2 separate regions of the Homo sapiens genome follow, and region 1 is linked to region 2. Evidence: fine-mapped expression QTL. A gene starts in region 2. The other region holds a variant in brackets. All regions are shown on one strand. Distances are between the middles of the regions.

Region 1 (12,285 bases), 28 kb before region 2:
TCCCAGCCCTTCCCAGCCTTCAGTGGCTCCAGCCTGGGTCCCTCTTCCCCAGCCAGTCACATACAGGTGGCCCTGCGTTGGCCCTCTCTCCTTCCACGCCTCCCAGCCCCAGGACAGCAGGCACACAGCAGAGGCGCGCTTGGAGCCGCCCTCCCCTCCACCTGACTCTGAGTGAGGGGCGGCTCCTGGGCTGGGCTGGGTTCCGTCCTGCCCCCACCCCCTTCAGGTGTTGCACGCTGCAGCCTTTCCCGCCCTGTGTGCCCTCATCAGCCATCCCCCGGAGCCTCAGGAACTGGTCAGGCAGTATCTGGCCAACGTGCAATGAACAGCTAGAGTTGGCAGCAGGACCCACAGCTCAGGGAGGCGCCAGGTCACGGGGATGGTCAGGAAGCTCGGGGGCAGGGGCAGGAGTCACTCTCAGGCCTGGGTCAGGGCTCTTCCAGGTGGACCCCGGGGCCTCTCCCCTCCTCCTTTGCTGGCTGGGTATGGAGGGCCAGCCTCTGGCCGAGACAGGCCCGGGATCTGCTGGATGGGCCCAGGGGCTGCCTGCTGCCCACAATGCTGGCACGAGCCGTAACTCACTGCTGTGGCTTGGCGTCCTGGCCCACCATGTCCAGGCACTGGGGAAGCCATAACTGGCTTTGGGTGGAGTGTCTGAGGGTGCAGGGCTGGTTTCATGGTCCAAGAGTCAGTGGGTGTCGTAGGTGTGGGGCGTTCCTTGGACAGTCAAGGGCCTCCTGCTGCAGTTCTTCACTGTTTTATTAATATCCACGAGTCATCATGGAGCACACAGAAATCTCACCCTGACACCAAGAGTCGTCATGGTCTCTGCCTGGGTCACCACAGTGAGCCGTAAGCACCATGTTCACTCCAGCCAAGTGCCCTTGAGGCTGGAGGTTACTCATCTGCAGCCAGTGACCAGGGATCCCGGGTTCCAACCAGCAGCATGAGGGCCAGGCGGAGCAGAGCTTGGGTCAACACCCACCCCGGAAGGCAGCCCAGTGCTCTGGATGAGACTCAAAGGACCCAAGGGGGCGAGCGCAGGCAGGGTCGAGGCTGGGAGATGAGGAAGGGAGTCAGACAGATCGTCCTCCCACGTTGCCCCGCACGCTTCAGACGCATCTCTTCTCAGTGAGTCAGCTGTGGGCCCCACTCAGGCCCCCGAGGAACCAGGACAGGGCTGAGGCTGGAGCGGCGGGCTCGGCTCCGCAGGGTGGGCTTTCTCTCCCGGGCTCGGCCAGGCAGGCACCAGCTGGGCCTGGGGAGCTCGTTCTGTGCCTGGCCCCGTCCTGCAGAAAAAGGAAGACAGGGCGGCTGTTGCCCAAGCTCCCTGTCCTGTCCCGTGGGCTGAGTCAGACCTTGTCCGGGCGGAGCCTGGGTCTGGCTGCTGTGTCCGAGGGTGTGGCCTGGAGCTCAGTCGACTCATGGAAGTTGACCTTGAGTGACACGGCCTCCTGCCTCCCGGAGTGAGCCCCGGTGACCCGCTCCACTTTGGCCTCCCTCAGGGATGAGCCAGTCTCACCTCTCCTAGGAGGCCTTCCCCTCGGCCGCAGCGTGCACTTGTGCTGTGTGCTGGACGTCCGTGGGGTGAAGAGCTCTAGTACTTGATAATGCCTGTGGCTGGGGAATGGTGCCCGCTCTGGCAACATTCTGCCCAAACACCTGGGCCCTGCAGGAGGGAAGGTCAGGCTGGCCTTGGGTGGGGCTGGCCTGCAGTCCCAGAGGTTCTAGCTGAGACCCCGTCACGCCCACCTTTCCCTGCCTTGGAGCGCCAGGTCTGGTCTGGGCAGGGCTCGTGGTCCTGTGGGCTCTGGCCAGGTCCTTGGCCTCAGTGTCTGCCCCCCAGGCTGGTCCCCGGTCAGGGCATGCTCTCTGACCCTGCGCTGGGTGCCCGCCCTCGGGGGAGGCAGGGTGGCGCTCTCCTTGGGCAGGAAGGCCCCGTGTCCAGCTCGCTGTGTCCCCTCGGCCTCACGGGGCTGCTGGCACTCTGACCCCCTCGGGCTGGCTGGGGCCACAGCAGGTAGGTCCGGGGTCTGTGGCCCTGCGCTGACTCCCGCCTGACCCCTGCAGCTGTGGCTCAGCTTTGCACCTGTGGCTGACGTCATTGCTGAGGACTTGGTCCTGTCCATGGAGCAGATCAACTGGCTGTCACTGGTCTACCTCGTGGTATCCACCCCATTTGGCGTGGCGGCCATCTGGATCCTGGACTCCGTCGGGCTCCGTGCGGCGGTGAGTCAGACCCCACACCATGGCCCGCTCCGGGACAGTGCAGGGGCCCCCGCATTTGGGTAGGAGAGTCAAGGCCTCCCCAGACCGGGGCCCACCAGTCCCAACAGCTGGGGACCCCGGCAGAGCCGTCGAGGTGGCGGCAGTGGGAGGTCCAGGTGCTCGGGGGACGGGGCAGGCACTTGGGCTGGTGGCAGCGTTCCTGACCCGGTCCCCGACCCCCTCCTCGCAGACCATCCTGGGTGCGTGGCTGAACTTTGCCGGGAGTGTGCTACGCATGGTGCCCTGCATGGTTGTTGGGACCCAAAACCCATTTGCCTTCCTCATGGGTGGCCAGAGCCTCTGTGCCCTTGCCCAGAGCCTGGTCATCTTCTCTCCAGCCAAGCTGGCTGCCTTGTGGTTCCCAGAGCACCAGCGAGCCACGGCCAACATGCTCGCCACCATGTGTGAGTTCCGGGGAGGGAGGCCGCCTGCCTGGGCTCACCTCAGGGTCCACACAGACGCTCGGCTCCCCAGGCTCTCTGGCCAGGGTGGAGGAGCTGGGGCCCGGAAGGTTCTGCCTGTGGGCTGGCGATGAAGCCAGGCCACAGCCGAGCTGACACTTTGTGCATCCGCCCACCCAGCGAACCCTCTGGGCGTCCTTGTGGCCAATGTGCTGTCCCCTGTGCTGGTCAAGAAGGGTGAGGACATTCCGTTAATGGTGAGGGGTCATGAGACGCCCGTGCCTGGTCTGTGTGGTGTGTGCGCATGCACGTCTGTGTGTTCCTGATCCCAAGTGTGTCCGTGTTCCTGTGCCCGTGTGTGATTCCCGTCCCCCGCCCCGCCACCCGAGAAGGAGTCTCAGCCTGTCGCTCAGGCTGAATTGCAGTGGCGCGATCTCGGCTCACTGCAACCTCCGCCTACTGGGTTTAAGCAATTCCCCTGCCTCATCTTCCCGAGTAGCTGGGACTACAGGCGTGCGCCACCATGCTTGGCTAATTTTTTTTTTTTTGTATTTTTGGTAGAGTTGGGGTTTCACCATGTTGGCCAGGCTGGTCTCGAACTCCTGACCTCATGATCCGTCTGCCTCGGCTTCCCAAAGTGCTAGGATGACAGGCGTGAGCCACCGCGCCCGGCCAGTGTGTGATGTTTCTATGCCTGCCTGTGTGTATTGAGTGTGTGTGGTGTGTGCGGTGCGTGTCTCTGTTCCTGTGCCCATGTGTATTGTGTGATGTGTGCATATGTGTCTGTGTGTCTGTGCACATGTGTGGTGTGTACCTGTGTGTGCTCGTGCATGTGTATCAGGTGCGGGTGGTGTGTTTGTGCTTGGGGGTATGTACTGAGCGTGAGTCTGTATGCACGTGTGCCTCTGCACCCACCTGTGTCTGTGTGTTGAGCCCTATCATGGGCTGTGCAGCTGGCAGTGAGATGTAAGTCTGGAGCCTGGGGGTGCTGGGCTAACATCAGCCAGGAGGGTGTCACTGGTGAGGGATGCGTTGACAGCCAGGGGTCCCCATGAGCCCCTGGAGCAGGCCCCTCCCAGCCTGGGCCTCGCAAAGGGCAGCTGCAGACCAGAGGTTGGGAGGCAGCCGGTGGTGGGGCAGGAGGAGCTGGGAGGTGGCGCCTGGGACAGGCAGGGCTGCGGCGTGTGTGGGTGCCAGTCTGCGTGGTCTCCTTGTGCACACACACCCCTCCCCAGCTCGGTGTCTATACCATCCCTGCTGGCGTCGTCTGCCTGCTGTCCACCATCTGCCTGTGGGAGAGTGTGCCCCCCACCCCGCCCTCTGCCGGGGCTGCCAGCTCCACCTCAGAGAAGTTCCTGGATGGGCTCAAGCTGGTCAGTGCCGTGGGATCCCCGGGGTAGGGTGGATTTGGGGGTGGGGGCAAGAGGCTGAGGAGGCGATGGGTTTGGGAAGGGCCCCCGGGCTCCGGGGCTGAGACGCTCTTTCCCAGCAGCTCATGTGGAACAAGGCCTATGTCATCCTGGCTGTGTGCTTGGGGGGAATGATCGGGATCTCTGCCAGCTTCTCAGCCCTCCTGGAGCAGATCCTCTGTGCAAGCGGCCACTCCAGTGTGAGCCTGGCCCCACCCCTGGGGACCCTGCCTCTGTCATCCGCCCCATATGGCCATGGAGTCACCGCCGCCTCCAGGGTGCCCAGTGTCCGACCCTGGCGGGGGCCACATTGACACCCTTCTGTGCTGTGGGCCCTCCCGAGATGCCCTGTGTGACATTATGTCCACAGGCAGTGGAGGTGGTGGGCACAGCTGCAGTGGGGTGGGGCAGCTGTGGGACGGAGCGGAGGGACTGACGGTGCCCTGTGGATGGGAAGGTGGGGCCCCCAGGGCTCCCAGTGCCCCTTCCCAGCAAGGCCCCGCCCCTGTGGGTCTGCAGGACAGCGCCACCTTCTGGTATCCAGACGTGCAGCGGGGAGGGCCTTGCTCTGCTCGCATATCTCCGAGCTGGCCCTCTGCCCTCTGCCTTCTGGGATCAGTGCTCAGTGTAGGATTGGGGGCATGTTTCCACCTTTGCCAGGGCCACAGGCACCACGGCCCTGTGGGGCCTCTGTGGAGACAGGCTCTTCCCTTTAGCGATTGCTTTGCTCTGGGGTGGGGTGGGAAACACAAGGCAGGAAACCCTACCCCGCAGGCAGCCAGCGGTGCGTCTGGAAGCTGTGTTGCTATGCCTGGGCCTTGGGCACAGCACACGGCCCTACACTGAGCCCCCTGCCCTGACGGCATGCACCTAGGATAATGGTGGCCTCTTGGGGCCCTGGCCTCTTCTCGCCTCCTCCAGGGGTTTTCCGGCCTCTGTGGCGCTCTCTTCATCACGTTTGGGATCCTGGGGGCACTGGCTCTCGGCCCCTATGTGGACCGGACCAAGCACTTCACTGAGGCCACCAAGATTGGCCTGTGCCTGTTCTCTCTGGCCTGCGTGCCCTTTGCCCTGGTGAGGGTCTCCTCAAGCCAAGACTGCCCTGTGGGGGTGGGTGGGTGGTGAGGCCCGGAGAGGGCGGTTGGCGGCTTGGCTGGAACAGAGGTCTGGACTGTCTCATGCCCAGCCTCTGCCAGCCAGGGTGGCCCCGGGGTGGGATGGGTTCTCCTGCCCCGTGTCCCATGTCCCGTGAAGCCAGGTCCAGTTCTGACTGCCACCCCCTCCACCTGTCTGCCTGCCGTTCCGCTGCTCCCAGGTGTCCCAGCTGCAGGGACAGACCCTTGCCCTGGCTGCCACCTGCTCGCTGCTCGGGCTGTTTGGCTTCTCGGTGGGCCCCGTGGCCATGGAGTTGGCGGTCGAGTGTTCCTTCCCCGTGGGGGAGGGGGCTGCCACAGGCATGATCTTTGTGCTGGGGTGAGTGTCCATCTGCCCCTGCTGCAACCCCAGAGATACTCCCCTTGCTCCACCCCTACACCCCTGGGGTTGCACCATGTGGTCCAGGCCCCTTTTCGGGGAGGTGGGGAACCTGCCTGCTCTGGCAAGGGCCGAGCAGGTTCTGAGCACCTGCTGTGTGCAGGCCGGGCCGGCTGATAGGGCCCATGACCGAGGCTGCGTGCTGCCTTCAGGAGGGTGGTGGCACAAGGGACAGCACCGATGTCAACATTTCCCAAGGTGGCACCTGGCTCCGAGGGGGTGGGCAGTGCAGCGGGGGCTGAGGGCCACGTGTGTCCAGGCAGGCCGAGGGAATACTCATCATGCTGGCAATGACGGCACTGACTGTGCGACGCTCGGAGCCGTCCTTGTCCACCTGCCAGCAGGGGGAGGATCCACTTGACTGGACAGGTGAGCCTCACATGGGGAGTCCCCAGGGAACAGGACAGGTGAGCCCCATGTGAAGATTCCCTGGGAGCGGGACAGGTGAACCCTACGTGGGGAGCCCTAAACAGCAGGACAGGTGAGCACCACGCAGGGAGTCCCCGGGCAATAGGACAGGTGAGCCAGGACAGGTGTGGCCGAGATCAGAGATGGGGCTGGCACACCCATATCCCAGACCCCATGCTAGTGACCTCTCTCAGGACCTGGGTCTGCAAACACCCCCTCAGGGCTGTCAAGAGCTGCGAGTGGGCTCTCCGTCTGGGGTCACTCTGTGGTCAAGGGTAGTGGGGTCACCATAGGCCAGCATTGGGCTCTGCCCATCTGTGGCCCCTGGGCTTGGCTGTGGGGACAGCTGTGCTATGTGTCCCCAGTGTCTCTGCTGCTGATGGCCGGCCTGTGCACCTTCTTCAGCTGCATCCTGGCGGTCTTCTTCCACACCCCATACCGGCGCCTGCAGGCCGAGTCTGGGGAGCCCCCCTCCACCCGTAACGCCGTGGGCGGCGCAGACTCAGGGCCGGGTGTGGACCGAGGGGGAGCAGGAAGGGCTGGGGTCCTGGGGCCCAGCACGGCGACTCCGGAGTGCACGGCGAGGGGGGCCTCGCTAGAGGACCCCAGAGGGCCCGGGAGCCCCCACCCAGCCTGCCACCGAGCGACTCCCCGTGCGCAAGGCCCAGCAGCCACCGACGCGCCCTCCCGCCCCGGCAGACTCGCAGGCAGGGTCCAAGCGTCCAGGTTTATTGACCCGGCTGGGTCTCACTCCTCCTTCTCCTCCCCGTGGGTGATCACGTAGCTGAGCGCCTTGTAGTCCAGGTTGCCCGCCACATCGATGGAGGCGAACTGGAACATCTGGTCCACCTGCGGGCGGGGGCGAAAGGGCTCCTTGCGGGCTCCGGGAGCGAATTACAAGCGCGCACCTGCAGCGGCCCCGGGTGTGGTTTCTGCGCCGCGGGAGGGGGAGCGGGGAGGGGCCCGGGTGCGGGGTGAGGGCGGCGCTGGAGGGGGCGGGGCGGCGCTGGAGGGGGCGGGGCGGCGCTGGAGGGGGCGGGGCGGCGCTGGAGGGGGCGGGGCGGCGCTGGAGGGGGCGGGGCGGCGCTGGAGGGGGCGGGGCGGCGCTGGAGGGGGCGGGGCGGCGCTGGAGGGGGCGGGGCGGCGGCGGCTGCAGCCACAGTCTGGGCGCACGTGTCGGGCTCGGCCCTTCAGCAGCGTCGGGGAGGACCGTGTGGGGTCTGGGGGAGGTGCGGGGGTCCTGAGGGGTGGCCCGGCATTAGTCTCGCCCGCTGGGGCTGGGAGCGGCGCGTCGGGGGTGGGGGGCGGCTCCGGACCGCACAGCTGTGAGCCCCGCCCCTCCGGCTGGGACAGACGCTCAGGCCGCGGAGGGGTCTCCAGCCGCTGATCTAACGGAGGGGAGGGGTCTCCAACCGCTGACCTGATCCCTCTGAGCCAGTTCCGTCCCTCAGACGGGCACTTCGGGAGCCCCCCGGGGGCCTGTTCTGTCCTGGGTCCTAACCGCGGCGCTGCTCCTCGGGCTCCGCGTCCCCCTCCACCCAGCTGACCCCGGGAGCCCCGCCCTCCCCTCGTGGGCTTGGCAGGGAAGCCGCGGGCCAGACCTCTTCCGCCGTCATCTTGTCAGCCTGGGACATCAGCAGACGCTTGATGCTGAGGACGAGGAAAGGGGTCAGCGCGGGCTGATGCGGGGGTGCAGGAGCCTTCTCGGTGGGGCTCAGGTGCTCCAGGGGCCCCAGGTTGTACTCGCTCACTGCACTCCCGCCCTTCCCGCTGGAGTGTGGCCCTGGGGCAGGTCCCTTCCCAACACACACTCAGGGGCCATCACTTCTGGGGGAGCCGCTGATGGGGACAGAGCCGGAAGGAGGTTACAGGCCAGCGCCTGGTACTTTCCCCGGCGCCTAGCAGGAGCTGAAGATGGAGGAGTGGGCTGAGGGGAAGCCGCCCCACCCCCACCGGGCACAGGCGCTGGTCCCTGTGTGAGCAGGGCTGGCCTCCCACTCAGCTGGGATCCTGGGTTCGCTCCTCATGGCCCTGAAGCTGGTCAGAGGTGGGGAGGTGGGCGTGGCATCTGGTGGCTGACTGTCCCTTTTGGGACAGGATGAGATCACTGGGGTTCCCCGGAAGCCGGGCCGCCCTGGCCGCCCGGGCACTCACTACTCCTTGTTGATTTTCCCTTTCCCGTCCGGGTCCAGCATCTTGAAGGCGTTAAGAATGGTCTCCTCGGCGTCGGTACCTGCCACAAAGGCACCTTCAGCCCAGGGCC[G/A]TCAGGGTGGCAGTCCCGTGGCTGCCAAGGGCAGATGGCAGGAGGGGAGACCCCTGCCCCAAGCAGGGGGAGACTCCAAGCCTCTGCCCACAAGGTGGCCTCTGCCTGAAGGCCTTCTCCTTTCCTGAGCCCCAAGGAGGCCTTGTCGGGCACTCCTGCCCTGGGGTGTAGTGAGTTTTGGGGTGCCCAGGGTCAGCCCAGGCCTGGAGCTGGGGGTGAGTGCTGCATGAGTGAGGGACAGAGGTGTCGACGGCGGGTCACACAGCACGTGGGGCAGGAGGGCGGGCCTGAGCACATGGCTCTGGGGTGGCTGACGGGGCCCCACAGTTGTTGGCTCCCAGAGTGCCAGGCCCTAGGGCTTCTCCAGAGATTGGAAAAGAGAGATTTTTACGTGAAATGTCCGGATCTCTAACTGTTAGGAATTAGCTAGGAGGGCCAGGCCTGCCCCACCGGTGCTCACCGCTCAGCTTCTCCCCAAACAGGTTCAGAAACATGGTGAAGTTGATGGGCCCCGAGGCCTCTTTGAGCATGGCGTCCAGCTCGTCGTCCTTGACGTTGGTCTTGCCTGTTACAGACATGGGGGCATCACAGGGCAGGGCTTGTTGCCTGCCCTGTGCCACCAGCAGGTGACCCCAGCACAGGGCCAGGCAGGCAGATGGGAAGGGTGGGGAGGGAGCGGGAAGGAGACGCTTGGCCCAGGCACGTGGGGCAGTGGGTGCATCTGGCTGGCTGTGTCCACCTCACCCCAAACCGTGAGCCCCAGGACTAAGTGCTGAGGGAGAGGGAGGTGACACAGAGCCTGGGAAGGTGCTGGGATCTGCTGTTCTTAATTCTGGGCATAAGCAGGGCCGAGAGGAAGGTGGGTCACTTGCGACCCTCCCACCCCAAGGAGAAATCACTCCCCAGCTCCCAGGGCAGGACCGAAGCCCCCTGCCCTCCTGCCTCAGGTCAGAGGCAGCTGCTGGGAACAGAATGTGCCGCAGGGAGGACTGAAGCTGGGGAGGGCAGTGTGCCCCACCACACTCGGGCTGTGCTGCAGAGGCTGGGCAGCGTCTCCACGCCCTCTGTCAGCTCTGTGGTCTGGCCGGGCAGGGTCTCCATGCCCTCTGTCAGCTCTGTGGTCCTGCCTGGGGGCAAGCCGCCTGCCTGCCTGTGGCGTCCTACCAGAGAGTCAGCCCCTCCCTGGAGCCTGCTGCCTCAAAGCCCACTCTGAGTTTCCAGGCTTGGGCTGTCCCACCCACCCTGTCTCACCCTGGGATGCTCTCTGCCAGCTCTGATGGAACCAAGGGCGGCCAGGGCCATCACCTTGCAGCTTCAGGGCCGTTGGTGGGCCTCTGAGGCGCGGGCCCTGGCTCCATTCGAGGAGGGGCCGCGGCGTCTGGAGCTGGAGGACCTCTGTGTTCGCCTCCTCCAAGGGCTCTGAGGCGTTCTGCCTGGGTACCTACCCAGGGAGGCATAGGTGTCCTTCAGGTCCTCCTTGTCAATGAAGCCATCTCGGTTCTGATCCATGAGTGTGAATGCCTGGGGACCAAGGTCAGGGCTGCTGTGCTGCCAACCCGGCTGGGCTCTGCCCCGCCCCCTGCTCCCGGTTCCTCAGCACCCCTGACTGAGGATAGGCTTCCACTCCTGCTGGCCCTGGAGCCAGCCCACATGGGGTCTTCCCAGCACAGGCTCCTGGGGGTGGGGGCTCCCAGTGAAGCAGGAAAGTCTCACCTCCTTGAACTCCTGGATCTGAGTCTGCTCAAAGTTGGAGAAGACATTGGATGAGGCTCTCTGGGCCCGGAGGGCACCCCCTTCCTTCTTCTTGGTCTTCCTGCTGGCCTGCGGTGGGAGCACCATGGCTGAGGGTCCTGGGCTGGCTGACGAAACCCTCCAGGGCACCCAGAGTTTTGAGAGACTTAACTCAGATGAAGGGTGGACCTCAGCCCTTCGGGCTGGAGGGGGCCAGACAGCTGAGGAGCATGCCAGCCTCAGGCCTGGGTAGCTGGGGTTGGGGGCAGGACGGCTGCAGGTGTCTGGCTTCAGCACAGGGACTGGGGGAGGGACAGTGGCTTCCAGAAGGCCCACAGAGCACAGTGGTCAGGGATCGCCGTCCAGCAGGAGCCAGCTTGGCCTCTGAAGGCTTGAGGGGCAAGTGGACTCTGGGTGGGCTTGTTCTGGGTACCGGGATTTTGTGAAAGCCAGGAACCCCCTCATCCTGCTCCGGACTCTCACCAGGAGAGCAACGTGAGGCACGTACTTCCCACAACACAGCACAGCCCACACCCGCAAGGTCACACACACGCACATACACACGCTCATGCACACACATATGCAGGCAGAGCACACGCCCACACCTGCATTCACACGCAAGCACGGACACGCCCACGCTCGTCTGTGCGCATGTACACATGCACAGCACAGCTCACACCCACACGCCTGCCCCAGGCATGCACGGCGGCCTGCTCACCATGCCTGCTTCTGCCTGCTTTGATGCGTCTGCCCAGGGCCCCAGGTCTTGCCCATCTTAAGCTCCTGCTTGGTCCCCCAGGACAGTTCAGACTCCGGCTGCCACTCCCTACAAGGACAGGCTTGGGGCTACCCCAGGGGACTGGACAGCTGCAGAGTGAGCTTTGGCAGCCTGGCAGTGACTCACACCCTTGCCCTGCCTCACCCCGCAAGGCCCCCAGCCTCCCCAGATACCTCTGGCCAGGACTACCTCCCATCCACCTGTCCCCGAACCCCGGGGAGGCTTTGTTCTCCCAAGGATTCTGTGTGTCAGCAGGGCCACCTGTACACGCTCTTGGCTGGGGGCCTGGGCACCCTGGAACTGCAGGAGCCAGAGGAAGGGGCACTTTTTCTAGATTTGCACAACGCTGCTGTGGGTGACTGCAGCTGGTCACCGGGCTTCTGCCAAGCACACTCTGTCTGTCAGGGGTGTCCACGCCCCTCCCTGCCTTGGTGACAGAAGTCAGTCCATAGCCTTGGCCCTGGGACCACCCCGTCTGACCTCATGGCTGGGAGCTCCTTGCCTGGCCCATGGGTGATGACATTTCTGGGTTGGAGGAGCCATGGAGATGGCCACGTTGCTCAGATGGGCTGGGAGGGGGACTCTAGGGCCCTGAGCCTGGTCTTCCCCACTATACCATGGCCTCAGGCACAGAGTCTGGGGTAGGGACCTGGCCCAGGGTCTGTTGGTGGTGTCAGACATCAGAGGCCACCACAGAGTCAGCATCCAGATGCCCTGGTTCAAGGGGTGGGAGGAGGGTCTGCAGGCCAAGCAGGATCAAGGAGGAGGCCTACAGGCTGAGTGGAGAACAAGCTTTTGGAGCCCCCCAGGCCTGCGTCTGCGTGGGACGCAGTAGGTAACAGGACCCAGGGCACCTGCCCCTCGGTGCTGCAGGGGCAGTGGTGGGAGTGACTATATGCAGCCACAACAGCAGGTGGGATCCCTGGGGGCGCCACCGTGTCTGCAAGGCTAAAAAGACAGGTGCCACTTGCATGTCTCTTGAGCAGAGGTCCTACCCCCTGAGGGACACATGGTCACAGTTGGCGTCCCCTGAGATGCTGCCTGGTGCCATCCCCAGGTCCAGCGGCCTCTATGAAGCACTGACTCCTGAGGTTGAGGACCCTGGAGGCATGACCTGCCCAGGAGGGACCTGGGGCCGACTGCAAGGTGTCAGGTGACCAGATGTGGAACCCTGGGGCTGGGAGCAAGGGCCAGGGCATCCCCTGCTGCCAGTCCAGTGGGGTCTGGGTGTGATCCTGAAGGGGCACTGCTGGGCTGCAGGAGTGGGGAGAACCACACCGAGGGGGGAAGCATGGTTGGGAGGCCCCCCGAGGCCACCGGGAATGTGAGAAGGGCTGCAGAGCCCCCTGCAGAGGGTTCCCAGGCCACTGGAGTCTGAGCACAGTGCTAAAGATAGCAGCAAGCCTGAGCCGGGGGAGTATCGGCTTCTGCACCCACAGCTGACCTGACAGCTGCAGAGGCCCCTGCGGGCGGTGTGCTGAGCCAGGTGGGACC
Region 2 (8,000 bases):
CGGGCACTGCCTTACGCAGTCCTCAGGTATAATGATGGGACTCTCTCATGATGACCAGGAGGGCTCTGGCCATGCAAGGCCCCTGGCTGGGGAGATTGAGCACAGGGAAGGGATGCCAGGGCCGTGCAGACAGAGGGACCTCGGGGGCATGCCAGGGCTGTACTCAGCTCTGGCCCCAGGGCCGTGTCCCCACCACACAGAGAGAGCTGTGACCCCTGGGTAACCTGGCCGCCCACTGCACAGAGGGAGCCGTGACCCCTGGGTGACCTGCCCCACACAGCTGTGACCCCTGGGTGACCTGCCCCCACCGCACAGCCATGACCCCTGGGTGACCTGCCCCTGCCACACAGCCGTGACCCCTGGACGACCTGCCCCGCACACCTGTGACCCCTGGGTGACCTGCCCCCACCACACAGCCATGACCCTTGGGTGACCTGCCCCGCACACCTGTGACCCCTGGACGACCTGCCCCCGCCGCACAGCCGTGACCCCTGGTGACCTGTCCCTGCCACAGATCCATGACCCCTGGGTGACCTGCCCCCGCCACACAGCCGTGACCCCTGGCGACTTGCCCCCACCATACAGCCATGACCCCTGGTGACCTGTCCCCACCGCACAGCTGTGACCCCTGGTGACCTGCCCCCGCCGCAGAGCCATGACCTCTGGGTGACCCCTGGATGGACCCCTGGACGACCTGCCCCCACCACACAGCCGTGACCCCTGGATGACCTGCCCCCACCGCACAGCCATGACCCCTGGGTGAGCCCTGGATGACCTGCCTCTGCTGCACAGCCATGACCCCTGTGACCCCTCAATGGACCCCTGGACGACCTGCCTGTGCCACACAGCCATGACCCCTGGGTGACCCCTGGACGACCTGCCCCTGCCGCACAGCCGTGACCCCTGGGTGACCCCTGGACGACCTGCCCCCGCCGCACAGCCATGACCCCTGGGTGAGCCCTGGATGACCTGCCTCTGCTGCACAGCCATGACCCCTGGGTGACCCCTGGATGCCCTGCCCCCGCCGCACAGCTGTGACCCCTGGGTGACCCCTGGACGACCTGCCCCCACCGCACAGCCGTGACCCCTGGGTGACCCCTGGACGACCTGCCCCCACCGCACAGCCGTGACCCCTGGGTGACCCCTGGATGACCTGCCCCCACCACACAGCCGAGACCCCTGGGTGACCCCTGGACGACCTGCCCCTGCCACACAGCCGTGACCCCTGGGTGACCCCTGGACGTCCTGCCCCGCCGCACCAGGATGAGCTGGATCTCGTCCCTGTCGCACTTCACGTGGTAAAGGACCATGTCCTGTGCGATGTCCTTGCGGTTCTCCAGCTTGTTCATCTTGTCGTAGGTGTCGGTGTTCATCACTGACCAGCCCAGGAACTGTGTCAGGGACTGGAGGGGATGGCAGTGTCACTGGCGCTCAGCGCTCCCGGCGCGCCCCCTCCCATGTGCCTGTGTGCCAGGCCCCGTGGCTCGGCGGGCAGGTCCTGGGGCTGCCACCATGGTGTCGCAGTGCTTCTGTGTGGGGTCTCCCGGGTGCTCTGCAGAGGCTCCTGCTCCCGGGGGGGCCCTTTGTCGTCCTCTCCCTGGCCGCATGCATACCGCACACACATGAGCACACGCACACAGCCGAATGCTTGGCGGGGAGGCCCCCACACCGCACAGGCCCCACCCCTCGCAGGGCATCCCCGGCGGAACCACGTCTGCCCAGGTGCTTACCTCCATGAGAACCTCGTCCTGTTCGTCAAAGGGCTTCCCGTCTTTCCTGTTGTAAAATGTGGCGACTCCCACAATCTCCTCCTTCTTGTTGACGATGGGCATGGACAGCACATTCTTGATGAGCCACCCGGAGTCGTCCAGGGCCCCTTCCTGCGGGAGCGGTGTCCAGAGCTGAGCTCCGCCCTGAGGCTGGCCCTGGCCCGGGCGTGTGGCCGGGGAGAGTGACCTCATGTCTTCTCCCCTAGAGCCGTGACGGCTGGGCTCGTGTTCCTGTCTCTGCTCTCTGCATTCCCTCTCTCCCTCTCTGCATTTGGAGTTTGTGTCCATGGTTTTTGTGTCATGATATTTTCCCACCGGAGGAGGTAGAGGCCGTTTTCCCACCAGGAGTGGTTTCATGGGCATGTGTGTGGGGCGGCGGTCACGGCCTCGCAGGGGTGTGTGGGGGCCGCGGTCACGGCCTCGCAGGGGTGTGTGGGGGCCGCGGTCACGGCCTCGCAGGGGTGTGTGGGGGCCGCGGTCACGGCCTTGCGGGCGTGTGTGGGGGCTGTGGTCACAGCCCCAGGTGATCCACCCGCCTCAGCCTCCCAAAGTGCTGGGATTACAGGCGTGAGCCACCATGCCTGGCTGAAGTTGTTTTTTAAGTGGCAAAAACGAATTCACTTCATCATCGCTGAATCAAAATCTCCTCTTTTGTAAGTAAGTATAATTTCTACCAAGGCACAGACAGATACCTGAAATTTGAACATTTCGTCAGCGGAAGCATTCATGATGTTACAAATCTGAAAAAGCATCAGAAAAACGATTTCATCCAAAACAGCGGAAGGTCTGTTATGATCTAAAATGGCCTCTGTGGCCCTGAGGTGAGCTTTTAAGTAGGTAAAGCAGGGCAGCTGGGGGCTTCACTGAGGCACGTGGAGCTGGCCGGGAGGGCGGGACGTGGCAGAGACAAGGAGAAGCACACATCGCCGCACCCAGTGAGGGCAAGGCTGTGGGGACTCCAGACAGCACGGGACTCACAAAGCCGCTTTCTGCCACGTAGCTTGGAAGGCCGCTGGCCAGGGCCCAGTGATCGGCTGAGGGTGTGCTGTGGGCAGAGAGCAGGGGTCAGATAGGCCACGCCGGGCTGGATGTGCGCGTGCAGGAGTCAGAGGGACTGGATGTCTGTGTGCAGGGGTGAGAGGGGCTGGTCTAGGCTGCACGTGTGTGTGCAGGGGTCAGAGGGGCTGGTCTGGGCTGCACGTGTGTGTGCAGGGGTCAGAGGGGCCAGGCTGCGCTGGATGTAGGTGTACTGGGGTCAGATGGACTGGGCGTGTGTGCAGGGGTCTGGGGGTCTCTGGCTCATGTGCCATCCTCAGCATTTACTCTCTTCTCTGAGTGCCAGGGGGTTCAGGAGGCGAGGAGGCCAGGGCGTGGGTTGGAGGACGGCTGTGCTGCCTTCTTCCTCCTCCCCAGGCTGCCGTGCTGGGGCCCCTCCCTCTTGGGAACCCCTCCCTCTCCGGAGGCCGTATGGCTTCAGCCTGCTTTCTAGGACTCAGCGTTGGTGCCTGCCCTGCCACCCTGACCCTGACTTGTGCTCAAGCCTGGCACCTGGATCCTGGTTCCTGCTTGGGGCCTGGGGATGGGGTCCCAATAGGCTTATGGGATCACAGGGCCACTGGGCCACCAGCTGCCCCTCCCTTGGCTGGAGTCCTGCCCTGACCTCCGGACTGGAGTTCCCCTCCTCTTCCAGCCCCACGGGGCCAAGACTCGGCCTCCTGGCTGGAGGCTCCACTGTCTGGGTGGGGCTGGTGGTGCCAGGGTCAAATCCTGGGGCCTTCATGCTCAATTGTTGCTGACGAGGCCGCCTGGACAGCTTGCCTGGTCCCCTGTATGTCCACTCTGGATGTCCACAGTGACTCGGGCTCCTCAGCAGCCCACGTCCTCCTCACCATCTCCCAGAACAGTGAGTCGGCTTCTGTCTCACCCCCAACTCCACTATGCCCCACGGCACACAGAGCACCACAGGTGGGGCCAGGCCAGGCCGGTGCTGCTGACTGCACCGTGGGAAGCCCTGGGAGGACGGCCCTGGGGGCTGAGCCGGGGTCTGAGGGGCGGTCCCTCCCCCGGGGACGCTTCTGGTAAAATCCTGCACTTACGGAATGACCTTGATCTCCTCCTTGCCGTGGAGGACGTAGTCGATCACTTTGTAGAAGACAATTTCCTGAGAAGCAGAAGACACTGGTCGGGGGGCTGCCTGGCCAAGCTCTGAGGGGCTCACACACACACACACAGCTACATGCAGCTACACACAGCCACACGCATGCACACCCCCACACACGTAACCGTGCATGTGTACACACGTGAACAGATGTCTCCGCCGTGCGCAGGTATTCTACGAATGCGGGTGCACTCACACCCATGTCCACACATGCACAGGCTCAGGGTGCACACACATGCAGACCGTCCCCAATACTCACGGGACACGCATCACACGCCGCGGTTTACATCTGTCTTCCCAGTCTGTGTTCCGCACAATCCCACACACAAGCTGGGCCCGTACTCTCACACACACACACACACACGCATCCTACACGTGCACAGGAGGTCCCACGTGGGGAGATGGGGCAGCAGGAGCCCCCACAATCAGAGCCGACGTGGGTCTTCACGACCAGCCTGGCGGCCCTCATTCAGGGACCAGCCCTGGACACCCCATCCCTGGAGTGCAGCAGCAGGGGAGCCTGGTGGAGACCACAGACAGGCACCCGGGGTCCCACCGGCCAGTTCCCACCTCCCTAAACCCCACCCCTATCCCTCCCTCTCCTGCCCTGGAGTTGGAGTCAGGGAAACAGAGGCGTGTGGACAGGCCCTGGGCCCCTCCCCTAAGACTCACCCGGCCATCAGGCGTGCGTGGGCCCGAGTACGGCTGGGACTCTCCCATCAGCACAGACCACACGTCAAAAAATTCCTGGGCAGAGAAGAGGTGAGGGTGGGGCGGTCACTGCGGGACCTGGGTCGGGCCAGGCAGGGGGTCCCTGAGCCACGGAAGCCTCACCTTCTCCTTGGTCATGTCCAGGAGGCCCACGGAGTACCGCTCGCAGTTGAGGTAGGCCCGCACCGTGTAGAAGGCCTTGTGGAACTGCCTCTCGATGTCCGTCAGCTCCTCAAACACCTTGTTGGCCGACCACAGCAGCACCTGGAGGGAGGGGCACACCTGTGGGCCTGTGGCCACTCCCACCCTCACGCCGGTCTGACCACAGCAGCAGGGGTTTAACTCAAGCCTGACACAGGTGCGCTCCCTGATCTGACCACCTGCCCAGCCGTGGAGCCTGGCACAGACCCTGATTGGTGGCTCCGTGGCCAGGTTTCATCTGAGCTTGTGGGGCCCGGGAGCTGGCTGGCGGTGAGGCCTCGAGGCTGCGGTCGTGTCCCTGATCACTCAGGAGTGGACGAGTGGAAAGTGGAATCTGTCGCTTTGAGCTTGACAGGCAAACATCCGACCAGCCCTTCCTCCGCCCGGCTGCTCCAGAACCACCTGCGGCGAGCAGGGCTTTGAGAACATCGGGCCGTGGTTTCCGCACGTCAGGCCGCCTGTGGCCTCCGCCAAGCGTCTGAGAGTGAAGCATTGCTGACGCACTCCACGAGGTCCTGGCCAGACCCCACTCAGGACATCCCGCTGCACAGGCCCCTGGTTGCTGGGTCAGCGCTGCCACCAGGCTCAGACTCACCCCAGGGCCCTCCTTGGGCCACCTTTCTCTGCCTCCTTGGTCAAGGCCCAGACCCAGGCCCCACCAGGCCCTGCCTCCTCACACTCGCGGCGGCCGCTGGGTCTTCTACCGCATGGTGCCAGCTCCCTCTCCTCCGCTGCGGTGTCCTAGCCCAGCTCTCTCCCTGCCAGGCCCTCTGAAGTTCCACCCCCTGGCACTCAGCTCATGGTGGGAACAGGACCAGGCTCTCCTGTTGCCAAGGGCAGTGAGATGTTCGTAGCTTTATTTCCCAGTACATTGATTTTACTGATTTTAGTTTATCTTCAGTTGAATAATTGTGTGTATTGATGGGGTTTATGTTTTATGGGGTTTGGCGTGATGTTCTGATGTAAGTATTTGTTGCAGAAAGATTCAATTAAGCTAATCAACATATCCATCACCTCACCAACTTGTTTTTTTTGTGGTGAGAACATTACAAGTCTATTTTCTAGCAATTTGGTATACAATACAGTCATCCCTCGGCATCCTCAGGGAAATTGGTTCCAGGACGCCGCTCTGATAACAAAATCCGAGGATGTTCAAGTCCCGGATGTGAAATGGCCTAGAGTTTGTACAGAGGTTGCACACGCACCCCCAGGACTTCAAATCATCTCCGATGACTTAGCACCCAGTGCAAGGCAAGGCCATGAAAACGGCTGTTCTACTGTATTGTTTTACATTCTTATTCTTATTTTTAATTTAAAACTTTTCCCACATCATAAATCCTCGGAAGCAGAACTGCACTTACCGAGCACCCTGTGTACTGTGGTTAACGGCAGTGGTGGCCGCCACACAGCGCGGCTGACCTTGAAGCCCACAGCTCCAGCTAACGAACGCTTTGCACCCTTTCACCAACGTCTCTGCTTTCTCTATCTCTCTTCCTGCCCCGGCCTCCTGCAACCCCCTTTCCACTCTCTGTTTCCATGAATTCAGGGTTTTCGGATCCCACATGTGAGTGAGATCCTAGCTTTTGGCCAGTGGCATCCTCCAGGTCCATGCACGTCAGTGCCCTTCCCTGGCAGCATCCTCAGTGCCGGCTCTGCTGTTCCCAGAGTCCCTCCCTCCCTCCCTGCTGAGGCCCGGCCCCCCTGCAGCCCCTGAGCACCAGCCTCTCTCGTCCAACACCTTTTTCTCCCTGAAGCCTTTCCTGAGCCATGTTTCTCCAGTGACCCTGACCCCTGCCTCGCAATCTCCGCCCGGGTCTGCAGCCTACCCTGACTCCTGCCTCACCGATGGGTGTGGACCCTCCTCACTGGCCTCCACACTCTCCTGCCCTGACCCCAGTCACCGTCGTGGAGCCGCCCTGGCCGCAGTCACAGTCATGGAGCTGCTGCTGGTGCCACCCTCAGCAGAAGCTCCCAGCCTTCCCAGCCCCTATCTGAGTATGTCCCACCCCCCGTGTCCCTGCACTGGTCAGGAGCTTTGGCCCCATGCCCGTGTGAAGAAGTCAGCTCAGTCACTGGAGTTAGTGGGTCCAGAACAGGACTTGGGAAAACAGCAGGTGCAGATGGCGACCGCCCTAGCACTCTCCACAGCCCCGGCACCTGCTGAATGGAGACGGCTCCCCATAGCCCCGGCGCCTGCTGAATGGAGACGGCTCTTCATAGCTCCAGAGCCTGCTGAATGGAGACGGCTCCCCATAGCCCTGGCGCCTGCTGAATGGAGACGGCTCTCCACAGCCCCGGCGCCTGCGGCTCAGGAGACTCGCTGTAGATGTGTGGAATCGCCAGGTGCATTCTCCTCGCGTGACTGGTTCACCCAGAGCCGCAGGTGGAGGCCCGGCCCCACCCTCTGCGCCCTCTGCGTCCCTCCCACACTCAGTCTGTCTCCTGCCGAACTCAGCGCCTTCGCACGGGCTCTGGCCTCTGCCTCCAGGCCCTCATCCCAGGCCCTCCTCCTCCCAAGGCCTGGCCTCAAGTCCTTTCCAGGAGGCCCCCCCTGAGGACCCACCAACCCCTGGGGCCCCCACTCCCCATTCAGTCTGACCCCACGGGTCAGCCCCTGCCCCGCCTGTGACGGCCCCACTGCTGTTGACATCGCCGCCTCAGCCCCTGCCCCGCCTGTGACGGCCCCACTGCCGTTGACATCGCCGCCTCAGCCCCTGCCCCGCCTGTGACGGCCCCACTGCTGTTGACATCGGCGCCTCAGCCCTGTCCTGCCTGTGACGGCCCCACTGCTGTTGACATCGCCACCTCAGCCCCTGCCCCGCCTGTGACAGCCCCACTGCCGTTGACATCGCCGCCTCAGCCCGTCCTGCCTGTGACAGCCCCACTGCCGTTGACATCGGCACCTCAGTGAGGGGAGGCACTGAGTTCAAGGTGGTCCCAGCCCAGCAGCCCCACCCTGAGGCTTCTGCCGTCCTCCTTGTTTTCATTTTTAATTTTCCGGTTAAAAGCCTGCTGGTGCACACAGCAACTGACTGAAGTGCAGGCGTCTTCAGCGTGTGGCGGGTGGATTTTCGCTGCCGGCTCGGGCTCAGGGCATTCCTCTGTGCCCCCGTCAACACCCCCTGCCCTCCGGAATGGCTCTTCCAACCTCCGACCCTGGC

The links. PIP is the estimated chance that this variant, and not a neighbour inherited with it, causes the effect.
Region 1: its variant is fine-mapped to the expression of PDE6B-AS1 in whole blood (TOPMed, PIP above 0.99).

The regions. Positions count from the first base shown.
Region 1 is chr4:676,476-688,760 of GRCh38, reverse strand. MYL5 (myosin light chain 5) reads right to left here. Exons shown (of 9, transcript NM_002477.2): 3 at 10,732-10,839; 4 at 9,996-10,103; 5 at 9,728-9,803; 6 at 8,743-8,847; 7 at 8,174-8,252; 8 at 7,621-7,669; 9 at 6,733-6,868. The coding sequence starts at 10,734. The coding sequence ends at 6,767. It overlaps SLC49A3 (solute carrier family 49 member 3), which reads left to right. Exons shown (of 10, transcript NM_032219.4): 2 at 2,071-2,229; 3 at 2,459-2,672; 4 at 2,850-2,926; 5 at 3,905-4,042; 6 at 4,162-4,278; 7 at 5,000-5,152; 8 at 5,394-5,551; 9 at 5,871-5,980; 10 at 6,385-6,932. The coding sequence ends at 6,803. LOC124900643 (a long non-coding RNA gene) reads right to left here and starts at 2,076. Exons shown (of 2, transcript XR_007057985.1): 1 at 1,523-2,076; 2 at 742-1,289. RefSeq lists enhancers at 1-295, 1,244-2,192, 3,397-3,526, 4,657-5,066, 7,396-8,035 and silencers at 6,814-7,043, 7,124-7,323, 7,544-7,643. The variant G/A (reference allele first, on the strand shown) is at 8,283.
Region 2 is chr4:650,754-658,753 of GRCh38, reverse strand. PDE6B-AS1 (PDE6B antisense RNA 1) reads left to right here and starts at 3,554. Exons shown (of 4, transcript NR_183811.1): 1 at 3,554-3,672; 2 at 4,541-4,689; 3 at 4,783-4,996; 4 at 5,071-5,849. PDE6B (phosphodiesterase 6B) reads right to left here. Exons shown (of 22, transcript NM_000283.4): 4 at 4,762-4,902; 5 at 4,600-4,674; 6 at 3,866-3,930; 7 at 2,748-2,814; 8 at 2,462-2,509; 9 at 1,731-1,880; 10 at 1,260-1,403. RefSeq lists an enhancer at 7,227-8,000.